2 separate regions of the Homo sapiens genome follow, and region 2 is linked to region 1. Evidence: fine-mapped expression QTL. Tissue or cell type: subcutaneous fat. Region 1 holds a variant in brackets; the other region holds the start of a gene. All regions are shown on one strand. Distances are between the middles of the regions.

What was found. PIP is the estimated chance that this variant, and not a neighbour inherited with it, causes the effect.
Region 2: it holds the start of MYEOV, and the variant in region 1 is fine-mapped to the expression of MYEOV in subcutaneous fat (GTEx, PIP 0.96).

The regions. Positions count from the first base shown.
Region 1 is chr11:69,355,731-69,363,346 of GRCh38, reverse strand. The region is part of intron 2 of LOC105369370 (a long non-coding RNA gene); the gene reads right to left. Among named protein-coding and RNA genes, the nearest start is that of MYEOV, 65 kb to the right of the region's middle. RefSeq lists a silencer at 3,240-3,440. The variant T/A (reference allele first, on the strand shown) is at 2,895.
Region 2 is chr11:69,290,110-69,297,725 of GRCh38, reverse strand. It overlaps MYEOV (myeloma overexpressed), which reads right to left and starts at 3,571. Exons shown (of 3, transcript NM_001293291.2): 1 at 3,150-3,571; 2 at 2,231-2,493; 3 at 439-2,134. The coding sequence starts at 2,371. The coding sequence ends at 1,334. RefSeq lists enhancers at 1-599, 1-721, 4,449-5,000.

The DNA of each region.
Region 1 (7,616 bases):
AAAGACTACATATTATGGTATATATAGTATATTTACATAATATATTACATGTAAAATATATGGTGTATTTTATATAAATATACTATATAATAATATATTGTCTATACTATATATTATAATATATAGTATATACACACTATATATTATATTATATATAGTATATATAATGTATATAGTATATATATAATGTATATAGTATATACACACTATATATTATAATATATAGTATAGATAGTATATAATTATATAATTATATAATTTATTATATATTATATTGTACATTGTATATTGTACATATAAATTTATATTAATACATATATAATAGATTATATATTATATATTTATATTGTATATTGCATTTAGAATATATTATGTATTTATTATATATTATATATAATATAGTACATATCATTATAATATAGTATATATTATATCATATATTGTACATATATAATACATTATATATAATAAATGTCGTATATATACACCACATTTTTAAAAACCCACTCATCTGTCAAAGTAAGTGGTAAATTCTATTAATATTTTGGGTCCAAACATGTCTTTATGTCACCCTTGCTCTTGAAGGATAGTGTATCAGCTATATAAGCACCATTTGATCATCATTTTTTCTCAACCTTTGTATCATTTCTGTTGTTTTCTGGTTTCTATTTTTACTGTCAGCCTAATTGGGCTCCTTGGCATGTCATCTGCTTTACTTTTCTATCAGATGAATTTATGAGTCCTCAACACTGGGGCCACCATGCTTTGCTCCTGTGCCCCTCCTTCTTTCTTTCTCCAGAAACTTGCCACTAGGTGGAAGCCAGAGTGGTTGTCATACCCACTTTGTGTGTTTCCCTCTCCCGGGGGCCCCAGTCCTGCTCTACCTGTTGGCATTGTGTTTAAAAAAATCGTTATTTCGTCCATTTTATCTCATTTTCTAGTTGTTTCAATGGGTGAATTAACCCAACCCTTTTCATGACCATGGCCCAAACAAAGAAGTCTCAAGACATGGAGCTTTAATTTAACTTTTAATTTTTAGAAATTCTATTTGGTTCATTTTGAAACATATCTATTTCATCTTCATGATGACTTGCCATTTCCGTGTTTTCAACTCCTCCTTGTAGTTCCTTGAACATTAAAAATGTATTATTCTATCGTCTTCACCTGCAAACATCAGTGCCTTTGAGGTTTTAAACCCATGCATGCTGATTCTACTCCTGGTGATCAGTTCCTTTGTGTTTGTAATTTATTATTGTGAGCTCATCTTCCGATGGACTTTATTTATAGAAATCCCAGATGGTCCTGAAGTCTCTCTGGTGAGGTTTTGGGTTTGATTCTTCTAGATGCCCCATGGGTCACTGGTTCAGGCTCACTCTCTATGGTAATTTCTTGACTTGAGAGTTACCAGGCCATAAGGTAAATAGAGGCATTTCAATCTGAATGCAGTCTGAAGACAGACCAATGATGATGGGTTCCTAGTAGAGAGGTTTTTCTTCCCCTGTCAACTTCATTTCATTTCCCTGAGCCAGTGGGCAGACTTACCTCCTTTACCCGTGTCCTGAGAGGGAGGCACTTTGTGAACACTGGCTCCCCATGGGGTGCTCAGCTCTGACTCTGCCCCACATGGGACAGGAGCCTCATCCCTGGCCCCTTCCTGGCTGTTGAGCACGGCTGCAGCCTCCGGGGAACCACAACCAGCGATCCCTCCCAGGTCTTCTGCGGCCTCACCCCACAAACTTCCCACCCTTCGCTTTAATTCTGTCTTTATTTCCACACCGCAGAGATTTCCCTTGTTTTCTCGTGCCCCTTAGCTATGCACTGAAAAGGATGTTAGTTAAAATGTATACAACATTTCTGAACGTTGCATAGAGGAAAGGCATAGAGCTAATCTGTACTTCCATGTCGCTGAAGGCAGACGTCTTTCCTGTAATATTCATTATGCCCTCATTAAGTAGGTGCTATTCTTGCCCCCATATGTATAGACGAGGAAACTGAGGGACAGAGGGGTTAAGTGACTAGGCCAGAAGTCCACAGCTACCAGAGGCAAAGGCCAAGATTTGAATCCAGGCTGTCTGGTGTCAAAGTCCAGGTTTTTTCCACTGGGCTTGCTGCTTCCAGGGGCCCCAGTGCTGCCAGTGAGGGCTGCCAAATAAAGTAAAGGATGCGGCTGGGTGGGGCTGTGTCACCCATGGGAGATAAAGGAGAAAGGACATGTTACATCTTCTAGGAAGCTTCCTTAAACAGGCGAGTAGCATGCACTTTCTTCGATCCTTTGTCCATACAGTATTTAGGTTATACTAAAACTTTTGTTGTTTATCAGAAATTCAGATTTAACTGGGCATCCTGTATTTTTATTTGGAGTGAAATCTGGCACCCTGCTGCCAGCTGCGGTTAGGAGCCGTCAGGCCTGCCCCAGCCAGGCTGATGCACATTTCCGGGCATTTGCAGCACAGCATCTCAAGGCTTGGTGGCTGTACTCCTTGTCCATCTGATTGAGGGGCCAGGGTGATCACCCACAGGATGCCTGCCCCAGCCCCTCATTCAGGGTGGCAGCCACTGCCCCTGTTTAGCTCAAACAACAGCCCCAGGCACCTGCCCCTGCTTAGCTCAAACAACAGCCCCAGGCACTATGGGAGGCTCCTGCTCCTTGCTGTCATCTAGAGGGGTTGGGACCTCATGATTGGTGTTGTCCAAGGCAGGGGCTTCCCCAAGGATCCCACTGGGAGGATTGGGGGCACACTTCCCCGACCTCTACCATGGGGAAGGGAGGAAAAAGTCCTAAATTTGGAGTAAATATGGGAGCAAACCCACAATGCCAAGAGGGACCCAGCAGGGGCAGCTGAGCCTCAGGTCTGGGGACATTCTCAGCTCCATCCTGAGCCCCCACAGCATGG[T/A]GAGGAGGATTGCAAACTGGGCCAACCTTTCTGAAGGGCAATTTCTCAATTCATGTCCAAATGTCAAAAGTGTATCCTCTTTGACTCAGCATTTCTACTTCTGGGAACTTACGGGAAGGAATGTTCCAACCCGGTGCAAAGATGATACATCCAGGGGTGTCAGGGGCTGTAATACCAGAAAACTGGCAATGGTCTGCATGTCTGTTGATACTGGTGAAATCATCAAACCTCTGCCTGATGGAATTGCAAGCAGCCTTTAAAAATCTGTGAATCTTTATTTGTGGGCGTGGGAAGCTACCTGTGATCCCCTTTACAGTGAAAAAGACACATGGCCCACCTGTAGTAAAGACCATCTATCTGGACTCTCTTGCAGCTAGGTGTGGCCATGTTACACATGGGAAAAGAAGATAAAGAAAAGGACATATTGTAGCTTCCAAAAGTCTTCCTTAAAAGGCAAGTGACATGCACTTTGTTCATCCCTTCTTTTTTCTTGCTGCCTGGGACTTGGACGTGATGGCTGGAGCTCTGGCTGCTGTTTTGGACCCAAAGGCAAGAACCATACCTCCAGGTTAACGGCTCAGAGAATAGTCAGGAGGTGACTGTCTCCAAAGGCTTTGCAGAGCAGGACCAACCACCTCCTATCCCATTTCTAGACTCTCACTTGAGAGAGAAAGCAATTTCTGTGTTGTTTAGTCCACTGCTATTTGGGGAGGTGTCTATTATTCACACTAGAACCTAACCCTGACTAATATAAGTAGTTTCTTTGGCAGGTGAGATTTGTAGGGATTTAAATGTTCTTTTAGATTTTTTTGTTTCTTTTGCATGTATGTCTTGAACATTTATCTGTCATTTATATTGTTTAAAAAAACTTGATTTCAAAGCAAATAAGGAAAAAATAAAGAAATCTGACAAACACCCAGCTCTTACAGTGAGCCAGCCACTGTTCTGAGGACTTTACATGAACTCTCTTGAGTCTTCACAGCAGTCCTGTAGGGTGCGTTAGTATCCCCATTTTACAGAGGGAGAAACTGAGGCACAGGGCAGTTGAGTCCCTTGTCTGTGGTGCCTCAGCCAGATGATGAGAGCATGCAGGCAGCTCCATGGGAGCATGCAGGCAATCCATGACCTCGATCATGATGCCACCCTGCCACCCTGGAGACCTCCAGCCTCAGAGGCTACCCAGGCCTAGGCTCCTACCTTCTTCTCTCCCACCATTTGAGGCTCTTCCCCAGAGCTGCTTTGGAAAGTACCTTAAGTTCTGGGCTGCCTTAGCCAGGGGCATAGGCCATGGAGTTGGCCAAATTCATTCCTCTCTTCATTCATTCTACAAACATTTCTGAGTGCCCACCCTACATCTGCCACTGTGCTGGGCACAGGGATGAAGTGGTGGGCAGGAAGGCATGGGCCTCACCCTCAGTCAGATGTTAGAAGACAGCCCTGTGTGGCATTGCTGCTCCTATAGAAGAGGCCCCTGGGGGACATGGGGGTGGCCTTAGCCAGGGAAGTCAGAGGCAGCTTCCCCGGAAGGGACACGTGATCTGGGATCCGAGGCAGGGGTGGGAGTTACCTGTGTGACGGGGGACGGGGAAGATGCTAGCTGGAGGGGATGGCATGTGCTAAGGCCCTGTGGCAGGAGGGGTTAGCCCACACACCCATACACACCCCCTCATTCCATGCCCACCACAGCCCACCCTCTGCACCCTCCTCCAAGAAGGCAGACAAGTCACCCGTCCTTCCCCAAGGCTGGAGGACAAAGACCTGTCCAGGTGCATCTTGCCAGGGAGCCTGGAGCTGTGCTCTAGCCTGGACCTGCCTGCAAAGGGGGAGGGGGCCCCAGAAGAGCAACCCACCCATTCCCCCCACCACGGAGCCCTTCCAACACCCCCAGGGCCTCTCAGGCTGGCACTGGGTGGTCAGCCTCACAACTCACTGCTCAGTCCCTGAACACTGTGAGAAGTAGGCATAAGAACCCCATTTTCTTCAAGGAAAGAACTGGGTCCTTGAGGGAATAGGGGCTGGCTCACGCATGGGGTTACAGGAAAGGAAGCCCCATGTGTGGCCTGTCCTCGACCCCACAGTGAGGACTGGTGACGGAAGAGTGAGGGCACCAGCCAGATCCTGCCTCTCAACTGTGGCTTCATTAAAATACATAGACACATGCACACTCACACACACGCACACACCTGCACCTGCACATGCACACACAGGCACACACATGCACACACTCGCACGTGCACACATGCAAACACATGCAGACACACACCAGCACCTGCACATCCACACACTCGCACATGCACACACATGCACACACACACACACACCTGCGCATGCACACACACATGCACACGCATGCACCCCTTATATTCATGCCTTTATGGGCTCACAGTTGGTGCGAACTGTGAGCAGAAGGTTTGCAGGGGGCTAGATCCGGCTCTGGCCCTCCCTGGCTGTCACCTCCAGCAAGTGTCCTCCTTCTCTGTGGGACCCATTTCCCCACCTGCAGCGTGGGCACCCCGACAGCCTCTACCTCCTGGGCTTGCTTCTGGAGGATGAAAGCAGTCCCATGCCGAGTCCCTGGTGCAAGGGACAGCTCAGAAGGAGGTCACCATTGTTACTCTGCCCCTCTGAGGCTATTGTGGTCACCCTGTCCCACTGCCCTGGACTGGCTTGGGGGCCAGGCTGGCATGATCATGCTGCTCTAGGCTGGCAGGTGGAGCATTCCCAGCCCCGGTTCCAAGGTCCCCCGAGGCGCTGACAACACTTGGAGGGAGACCATGCAGGCTGGGCTTCCTGACCACCCAGACCCTTCAGGACCACCCCCCATCCCACCCCACCATGGATGTGGCAAAGGCCCTGCCTTGGCAAGCCTTCCCCAGACCCTCTGCTCTGCTGGAGCTCCAGAGCCTCCCAAACGGGGCCCCCAGTTCCTGCCATGAAGACCTGAGGTTGAGGCGGCCTTGGGAGGCCTTGGCATGATCTGGGGCCCCTTTGGGCCTGAGTGGCCACTAACTCCGTGGCTTCTTGTGTTAAATGTCATTCACATTTGTCACCCCATCGTGCCCCTAGTTCAACTCACACCAACTGCAACATGTTTCCAATGGGGGTCGCACTGCCCCAACTTCCTGAGACACTTATCTGACCCAGTCACTCTCCCTCTCAATCCTTCAATAGCTCCCTATTGCCTTCAGTCTCAATGCTGTCTCTGCATCCCAGGCAGCCACACAGCAGGGGCTCTGTACCCGTCTGCTGCCTTGGAGGGTGGGGAAGGGGCATCTGCCCCACATGTGGCCCCACCTGTCAGGTTTCCCCGATGCTCAGATGTGCACCAGCTCCCATGGGAGGGGAAAGGAGTGTGGGGGCGAGACTTTCAGCCTGTGCTCCCAGCAGCAGTGTTTCAAAAGAGTTTGTTTTCTTTCAAAACAGAATATATCGAGCGTCCGGCCGGCCAGTGGGTCTGGGGCCAGAGACCAGAGAAGTGCTGCAGGCACTGGGCATGCTGAGTGACATCACCATGGGCCGGTGCTGGCAGGGGCTGGGCCAGACCACAGGCAGCGGGTAGTGCAGAGCCCTCCCCGAGCTGGGCCAGGTCTGGCACAGGGGTCCCAACCCTAGTGGGTTCCCAGATAGGGGCTGAAGAGTCCCTGAGTCCCCTGAGCTCCCGGTGGACTCCACTGTCTCAGTGTGCCAGCCCAGTCTTCACTCCACCCACTGGGGTGCTCCTGGGCAGTGGGCAGACCTCCCGCTCTGTCCTCCTGGCCCAGCATGGAGGTCTTCGGGGGCGGGAGAACAGTGAGGTAGTCCCCCTTTACCTGCGGGTGCACTGTGCCTCGTCAATCAGTCTTCCAAGCAGCCTTTGAAACTGCTTCCCTCTCTACAGACGAGGAAACTGAGGCTCACAATGCTTACTGTACATGCTTAGAGTCCAGTGTTTCCTCTTCCCTCCCTCCCTTCCTTCCTCCCTCCTTCTTTCCTCCCTCCTTCCCTCCTTCCTTCCTCCCTCCTTCCCTCTCTCCTTCTTTCCTTCTATTCTTCCCTCCCTCCCTCCATCCATCTTTCTTCCCTCCCTTCCTTCCTCCCTCCTTTCCTTCCCTCTCTCTTCCCTCCCTCTTTCCCTCCTTTCTCGCTCCTTCCTTCCTTCTCTCCTCCCTCCCTCCCTCTTTCCTTCCTTTCTTCCTTCCATCCATCCTTTCCTCCTTCTCCTCTCCCTCCCTCCCTTCTTTCCTCCCTCCTTCTTTCCCTCCCTACTCCTCTCCCTCCCTCCTTCCTTCTCTTCATCCTCCCCCTCCCTCTTTCCTTCCTTTCTCTCCCATCCCATCCTATTGTACAATAATGTAATAATGCTTCGCTGGGCACGTGGCCTCCCAGATAAACACTGCATTTCCCAGACTCCCTTGCAACACATCCCAGCCATGAATAAGTTCTGATTGAGGCCACTCCAGCTGAAGCTCCATAAGCCCTTTTAAGCCTTGCCCTTAATGGCAAGAGGTGTCCCCTCCTCCCTCCCCATCTTGGACCCAAGATGGAAGTGACTTGCTGAGGATGGCGAGGGAGAGAGATAGAAGGAGCCAGGCCCCTGGCACTGTCAGGCCACCAATCAGCCCTGGGCTGCCTATCTCCCTTTTATGTGAGATCTTGACGCAGGGATTGAGCCCCTGTGTTTTTAGGTGTCTTTGTTGCAGCGGTGTAACTAACTCATGCAGAATTGCCCCAAGCTTCGATCTG
Region 2 (7,616 bases), 66 kb after region 1:
TCCTCTTGACCCCTGACTCCTCTCCCAGGCAGGTTCTTCACCTCTCCTCCCTTGCTTGGAATGAATGGATTCTGCTGTCCCTTTAAAGGGACCTGAGTCAGAGAGTTAAGAATGAAACTGACTCATGGTAGAAGGGGTGGTCACCAGCTGGCCAGGCGCCAGGGCTGCGGCGGGAGAGGAAGCCGGGCGGCCGCAGCTGCCTGTGTGTGCTCGGCTGCAAAGGGCAGAAACCACAAAACCCCATTTGAAATTCCGCCGTGCAGCGTGTCTTGTGTAATGAGGTTACCCCTCATAATGGGGGCATTCAGGGCCCACACGGGCCTGGGGGCTGGGGGCCTGCCCCCCGGGGCCAGCTGATGCTGATGTCATCTTCAGTTAGGAGTATCCCCTCCCTTGATTAAGAACTTTAAAAAAAAAAAATGCACCAGGAAACTAGAGTGAGAGCCAGAACGGAAGTCTTGGTTTTATTTATAGTTGATAACTTACATCCGGCCTGCTCCTCAGGAAGCACAGCAGGGAGGAGACAGAGCCCAAAGGAGACGGCGACAAAAATGCCCAAACCCCTGAGCTAATGTGGTGACTGAGAGCAAGCCTAAAGCTCCCTTCTGAGCTCCCCAGCAGCCAAAGCAAAGAGAGAAACAGGGTCCTGCAGCATGATGTCACAGAAAACCAGGGACCCTGGAGCCTGGGTTCCAATAAGAACCTTACATTCTGACGCCTTAGATTTCTCCCTGGAAAATGGGGAGAAAAATACTGAATTGGTTGGGAGGGCCATGCAACACACCCAGCACAGTGTCTGGATGCATTTCAGAGGCCCCACCAGTCTAGGGTCTACAGAAAGACAGTACAGGCGCCTCACTCTCCATGCCTGTACGCATGGCAGACATCACTCATGGATTGCAACACGCTTCCCTGGAGCCAGATGCAGCCTCGTAGCCCCATTGCACAATGTCTCCAGGGGCTACCACCAATGCCCCAGTCGGCTGGAGCTGAACTTGCGTGTCCTCCCAGCCTCTAACCAGCTGAGAAAATGACCAGAAGGAGCTGGGTTATCATGATTTTCCCAGCACCTGGCTCATGCCTGCACCTGGGAGACACTCAATAAAAAATTGTCTAGTTAGGGAAGAGGCAGGGAAGAATGGGAGAAAGGAGAAGGAAGAGGAGAGGGTAGGAGAGTTGGGAGAGGAAACTTGGAACTTAGGCAACTTGTTGAGCTTCTCTAGGCCTCAGTTTCCTCATCTGTTAAGTGGGGGGTTTTAGTAGCTACCTCATGGAGTCATTCTGAGGATTAAATGAGGCTGGGCATATAAACCACTTGGCACACAGGACGTCCTCAACAAGTGAGGATGATGATGAGGAGGAGGAGGAGGAGGTGGTGGAGGAGGAGAGGAGAAGCACCTGACACTGGGGGTGGGTGCATAGTGGGCCCCACCTGGCCAGTCCTCCTAACTCCCATGCGCCACCCCCCCAGGGCCTCAACAGTCACAACAGTCAGCCAGGACCCAGCCACCCGCAGAGGCAGGCCCCAGGTGGAGCAGTGAGGGGTGGGGTGCCGGTGGAGGGTCAGGCATGCTCTTCTTCCCCTTTCATAGTCAGGGCAGCTCGATTCTGCCAGGGTCATGCAGAGTGCCCCGGCACCGGCCAGAAGTCCTCGCCCAGGTGAGCGCAGAGCCACATCCATTCGCGCCCACATAATTTCCATGGAGAGCCCATGCCGCCCATGCACCTCCTCAGGGCACGAGCTAATGGCCTGCTCAACGCCCACTCTAAAGGCTTCTCCCAGGTGAGCAACGCCCACCACCCTTGCAGACTGACTCCCAGAATTCCTGTTCCCAGTGCCACACAGAGTGCCTTGTGGTGCATCTGTGACCCTCCTGGCCCGGGACACGTCCACGTCTTCTGCCTCCTGGCTGAGCCCCGCACCTGTCTGGGCACCCTTGTCTCCCTTGTTTCTCTCCCGGTCACCAGCTCCAGCAGCAAACCACAGAGACACAAATGCTCCTCTCACCGCAACACGCAGGGCCTGGGAGAGACAGAGGCGGCCCCGGGATCTGCCGGCTTTGGAGCCCTCCACGAAGTGTCCAGCCTGCCGGGTGAACATGAGCAACGAGTCCCTGTCCCCAAGGGGGACAGACTACAGACAAGAAAACCGATGAATAAATCAGACATCAGCAGGTGGCATTCACCCACCCAAGAGAAGAGGTTACTGGGGTCAGGGAAGTGTCGGCACCTGGTGGAGGTGGAAGGTCAGGAAGGACACACCACGGAGACAATGACACCAGGAGGGAGACTGTTCCAGGCAGAGGCAACAGCGAGTGCAGAGACCTATCGGGAGAGCTGGGGTGTATGTGACGCAGATTCTGAGGGCCATGAGCCGAGGGAAGGAGCCAGACGCTGTCCTAAGTGCCAGGGGAAGTTGTTAGAGGTGTTAAGCGTGGCATGACGTGGCTGGATTTAGGGTCTGAGATGAACTTTCCTGCTCCTGAATGGACTCTGAGGAGAAGGAAGATACTACCATCCGTAATCCACCCCGGGAAGGCACTGACCTCCTTGACCATGGGGAGGATGAGAGGCCGCCGCTCTGTGCCTGGGTCCCCATGGCCTCTAGGGTCCCTTCACGTTTTCACCTCATGATCCTGGAAGCTGGGACCTGCCCAAATCCACCGGGTGGCCCCAGCCTCCCCATCTCTGGGGCAGGGGGTGGGCAGCCTTCTCCTCCTGGTTTATAGCCACAGATGACTCCAGGCACAGTGGTCCTCAACCGCCTCTAGGGACCATGGGGACGGCTGCCCTCTGTGTGTGACGGTGGCTGGGCAGAAGCCAGCTGGGCTGTCGTGGGTAGGGCCTGGAGGCCTCTGGCTGTATGGTGGTCTAGCTTTGGCACCACCTTGGGGGGCTCCGGGTAGGAGGTGTCCACCAGAGGGGACCTGGGCAGCTCAGCAGAGGCTTGGTCACTCCCGAGCCGTCTGTGGGTCCCACTGGTCTGTACCCTCAACCCCACTGACCTGCACTGGTCATGCCCAGCTCTCACAGGATGATGGCCCCAGCCTTGTAATGAGTCACCTGCTGCCCTCCTGCCCCTCCAGCTGGTCCCCCACCCAGCAGCCACAGGGCTTTCCTTAAAACATAAGAAAGACCCTGCTTCTTACCTGCTCAGATCCCACCAAGAACCGGCCACCTCACTCCAGATAAACTCCAGACTCTTCACTGAGCCCAAAGGCAACGAGCAGAAGTGTCCAGAAATCACACAGAGCTCAGCAGGTGGTGAGGCACCTGGACCCGAGTCACCCAGCAGCTGAACAGGCCATCCCTGAGGCCATGCACGCCCCGGCCCTGCAGGTGTGACGGCCGAGGCTTCCACGACGGGGGGTGAGTGGGAGCTAATATGGCTGGTGAAAGCACTGGGTTCAGTGGGGATGGCATCTCCCGCCCTCTGTCCAAGGTGGGGAAAAAGTCAGCTTCAGGTGAGGGAGACCCTGGACGCCTGGCTTTGGGCTGATTCCCCACTCACTTGGCCTCTCCCAAGCATACTTTCCTGCTTTGTAGGGATGTGGGTTCGCGGGACAGTAACAGGAGAATCAAGGCAAGAACTCAGAGGGGGATAGCCAAGGTAGGCGGAGCTGCCTGGTGGGTGGGACTAACCCAGGTGGGTGGGGCTGCTTGTGAGTGGGGCTAGCCCAGGTGGGTGGGGCTGCCTGGTGGGCAGGGCTTTCTTCCCCGTCAACATTTCCCTCTCTCGGTTAAGGCCAGGGCAGAGCCCACACATGGGTGTGCCCAACCTTAAGGCCTGCCCTGGGTGAGTTAAGACTCCCCAGCTCACCTAGGTCCTACCTGAGGGGAACCTACACGGCCAACCTCCTCAAGGATCCTGAAGCCACCCAGAAGACAGTGGGGCTAGGGTGCCATTCATTCATTCATTTATTCATTCACCTATTCATTTATTTACTCGCTTCACCACCCTTTCCTGGGTAATATTAAGAATAACAGTGGGCCTAGGAATATAGAACATTCTTAGGGGTTTCTTGCAGGCCAGGCACCCTAAGAAAAAGTTATGTAACCCACGTGGCCTCGCTGTGAGGGGGACGACTGCTGTCCTCACTTAATAGATGAGGAGCTGAGCCATGGAGGCCTCACAGCTGGGCAGCTGGGGGTGGACCCCATAGACTGGAGGGGGATGGGCAGGGGCAAGGAGTTCTGCTGGCCCCAGGCCTCTTGTACACATCTTGGGAAGTACTAAAAATGAGTACTTGCTCAAGTCCCTCTCTTCATTGAGCACAGGGAGCTCTTGGCCCTTCCCTCCTCCTCCCTTTACCCTCACCGCCCAATTCCACACGGGTGTACTGAGCACTTGCTAAGGGCCAAGACCAGCACTAGGTGGAGCACACAGTAGGAACCCAAGGCAGCCCTCCCTGCCCAGCTCTCCAGGACACTGTCGTCAATGCCAGCGGGAAGCATAGAGAGGCCAGGGAAAGACGGGCAGTCAGGAGGAAGGAGCCAGCGGAGGGGAGAGAGGGCCGGCAGCTCAGTGCACCTGGACCGTGGTGGATGCTGGACTATGACCAGAGACAGGGCTGCAGCCCAGAGCTAGCCCCAGACCCACAGGGCCTCAGGGGGCTTCACAGGCTTTGTCAGGGGTTTGGACTTTCTCCCGAGGGCTGGGGACCCTGCAAGTTGCAGAAACTGGGCTATATTTGGCATTTTAGAAGCCTCCCCCAGCTGTAGTGGAGGGGAATTGGAGGGAGTGGGAGAGGAGGTTCCCATTCTCACTCAGGTGGGAGATGGTGGTGGGATGGAGGGTGACCCTGATTGATAGGACTCAGGGACAAATTAAAGGTGAGGGCCAGGGAGAGGGTTATCCAGACAGCTCCCAGGAAGATGGCAGTGGGATGGAGGGTGACCCTGATGGGACTCAGGGACAAATTAAAGGTGAGGGCCAGGGAGAGGGTTATCCAGACAGCTCCCAGGAAGATGGTGACACCAGTGAGGTGGGGAGATAGGATGGCATTTGGTTCCCACTGAGCTGGAGATGCCTGTACAAAGCTTCTAAGATACCCAAGGCAGAATCTGCAGCTCCTGCAAAGACAAGAGCTCTGCTCTGCCTCCAGGGAATCAGGGGAGGTCTCCCCAGTGCCCTACTGGGACCTCCAGAGACCCTATGCGAGCCTCCCCCAACCCAACCACCAGCCCATCAGCGCCACCTACCGGCTGCTCAGGGCAGGCACTCAGCAACTTGCTGAGGGCAGATCCTGATGTGTCCCCGTTTTACAGATGAGGAAACTGAGGCCAGGAGACAAGATGACGCCTGTTTGAGGTTACGTAGAGGTGGAGGTGGCATAAGACCTCAGTTCTTCCTGGCAGATCCTCTCCAAAGAGCCCCGTCTGAGAGCAGATGGAAGGAGGTGGTGTCAGGAGATACCTTATCTTACTTTTGTCTGCTGTCAGCATTCCAACAACCCTAGATTATTTTGGCACCCCGCAGTGTCACTCAGTCTCACCATAGCCTCACTCTAATTATCAAAGCTCATCTTTTGGGCTGATATCTGCTTCTGGGACTCCCAGTAGCCCACCTGGGTCCTGCTGGGGAGGACTGTAGAAATCTGACTGCCCCAGGTTGATTTTCTCCCTCTGTCTTCAACATTCAGATTGCCAGCCCACCTGTTAAATCATGATGAGTTGGTGATGGTGATGGTGATGGTGATGATAGTGATGATGGTGATAATGATGGCGTTGATGATGGTGATGATAATGGTGATGATGGTGGTGATGGTGATGGTGATGATGGTAAGGATGATAATGGTGATGATGATGGTGGTGATGATGGTGATGACGGTGATGGTGATGATGGTGGTGATAATGATGGTGATGACGGTGATGGTGATGAAAGTGGTGATGATGGTGGTGATGATGGTGAGGATGATAATGGTGATGATGGTGGTGGTGGTGATAGTGATGATGATGATGGTGAACATGGTGAGGATGATAATGGTGATGATGGTGGTGGTGATGATGGTGATGATGGTGGTTATGATGATGGTGATCATGATGGTGAAGATGATAATGATGATGATGGTGGTGGTAATGATGGTGATGATGGTGGTCTGATGATAATGTTGGTGATGATGGTGATGATGGTGGTGATGATGATGGTGATGGTGATGATGGTGGTGATAATGATGGTGATGGTGATGGTGATGATGGTGATGATGGTAATGATGATGATGGTGATGATGGTAATGGTGATGACGGTAATGATGATGATGCTGGTGATGATGATGATGATGGTGGTGATGATGATAATGGTGAGGATAACTTGTACTGAACATGCACCACATGTCAGTAGTTTTCCCACACTATTTCATTTAATCCTCATGACAACTTTATGGCTAGGACTACTGTTATCCCCATTTTACAGAGGAGGAAACTAAAGTGTACAGTGGCTCAGTCACATAGCAAGTTAGCAGTGGAACCTAGGGGCACCCAGGCAGTTGCACCAAGACCTGCTCCTAACATTACCCTATACTGCTTTTGGCTCAGCCTACAGAGCTGTCTTTGTGACCCCTTCTCTGACACTCCTCCTCTGAGCCAAAGGGCAGCTCCTCCCATCATCCATATCAGTCTGACTGCTCTTTCGCAGTAAGACACAATGAGGAAGCCAAAGACTCTAAAGGGAGGGGCACAGGGATGCCAGTTTCCCTCAGAGCACTGCCAAGGAGGGACCACAGCTCCAATGGCGTGGGCATATGATGTTCCACCTGCCACAACTCCATGCCCAACTCTCCTGCTCTGAGGGATCAGGCTTGGCCCTGACCCTTCTGCCTGTGAGCAACTGGTGAGCAGCCAGCCCAGGTTGCAGCCACCAGCATGTGGGCACTGGTCAGCACAAGGCATGTCTCCTGTCCAGTACTCAGGGCCTCGCTGGCCACAGTTGGACTCTGAAAGATTCCTGATGTGGACTCAGATGTGTTTGAGCCTAAAAACATGCTTTTCATTGGTCCCACCCTACTTCAAACAAAACAGAAGCCTGGGTTGTTCTAAAAAACCATGCACAGCTGCATCATCTATTGCCCAGGCCCCAAGGGTCAGGTTCTACCAAAATTTCTACCTGCATGATCCCATTTAACCTTCCAGCTGCCCTGCCAGTGGCCCTCACTCCATTTTACAGATGAGTAAACTGAGGCCCAGAACAGTCATGCTGCCTCTTCAAGGCCATAAGCCGTTGGAGATCAGAGCCAGGATTCTGAACCAAGGCTATGTGAAGCCAGTGGCCCTCTCCATGCCCCACCCCAGCCCAATATGGTGCGATCTTCTTGGGAAAAGTAAGAACTGATGCTGAATTAATTTTTAAAATTGTGGGAGGCAGAATTCTATGATGGTCCCCAGACCCACACCTCTGGTATACATGCCCTACATAGTCCCTGCCCCTGTGAATATGATGAACACTCTATGATAGGATTGTGTTTGATGGCACTGTTGACTTGTTCATTTTGAGAAAGGGACACTAACCTAATGGGCCTGACCTCATCACATGAGCCTTTTACAAGTAGGGTGTTTTCTCCATCTGGTCCTCAAAGTGGAAGTCGGGAATTGGACGATGAGAACCACTGCTGATTTGGAAA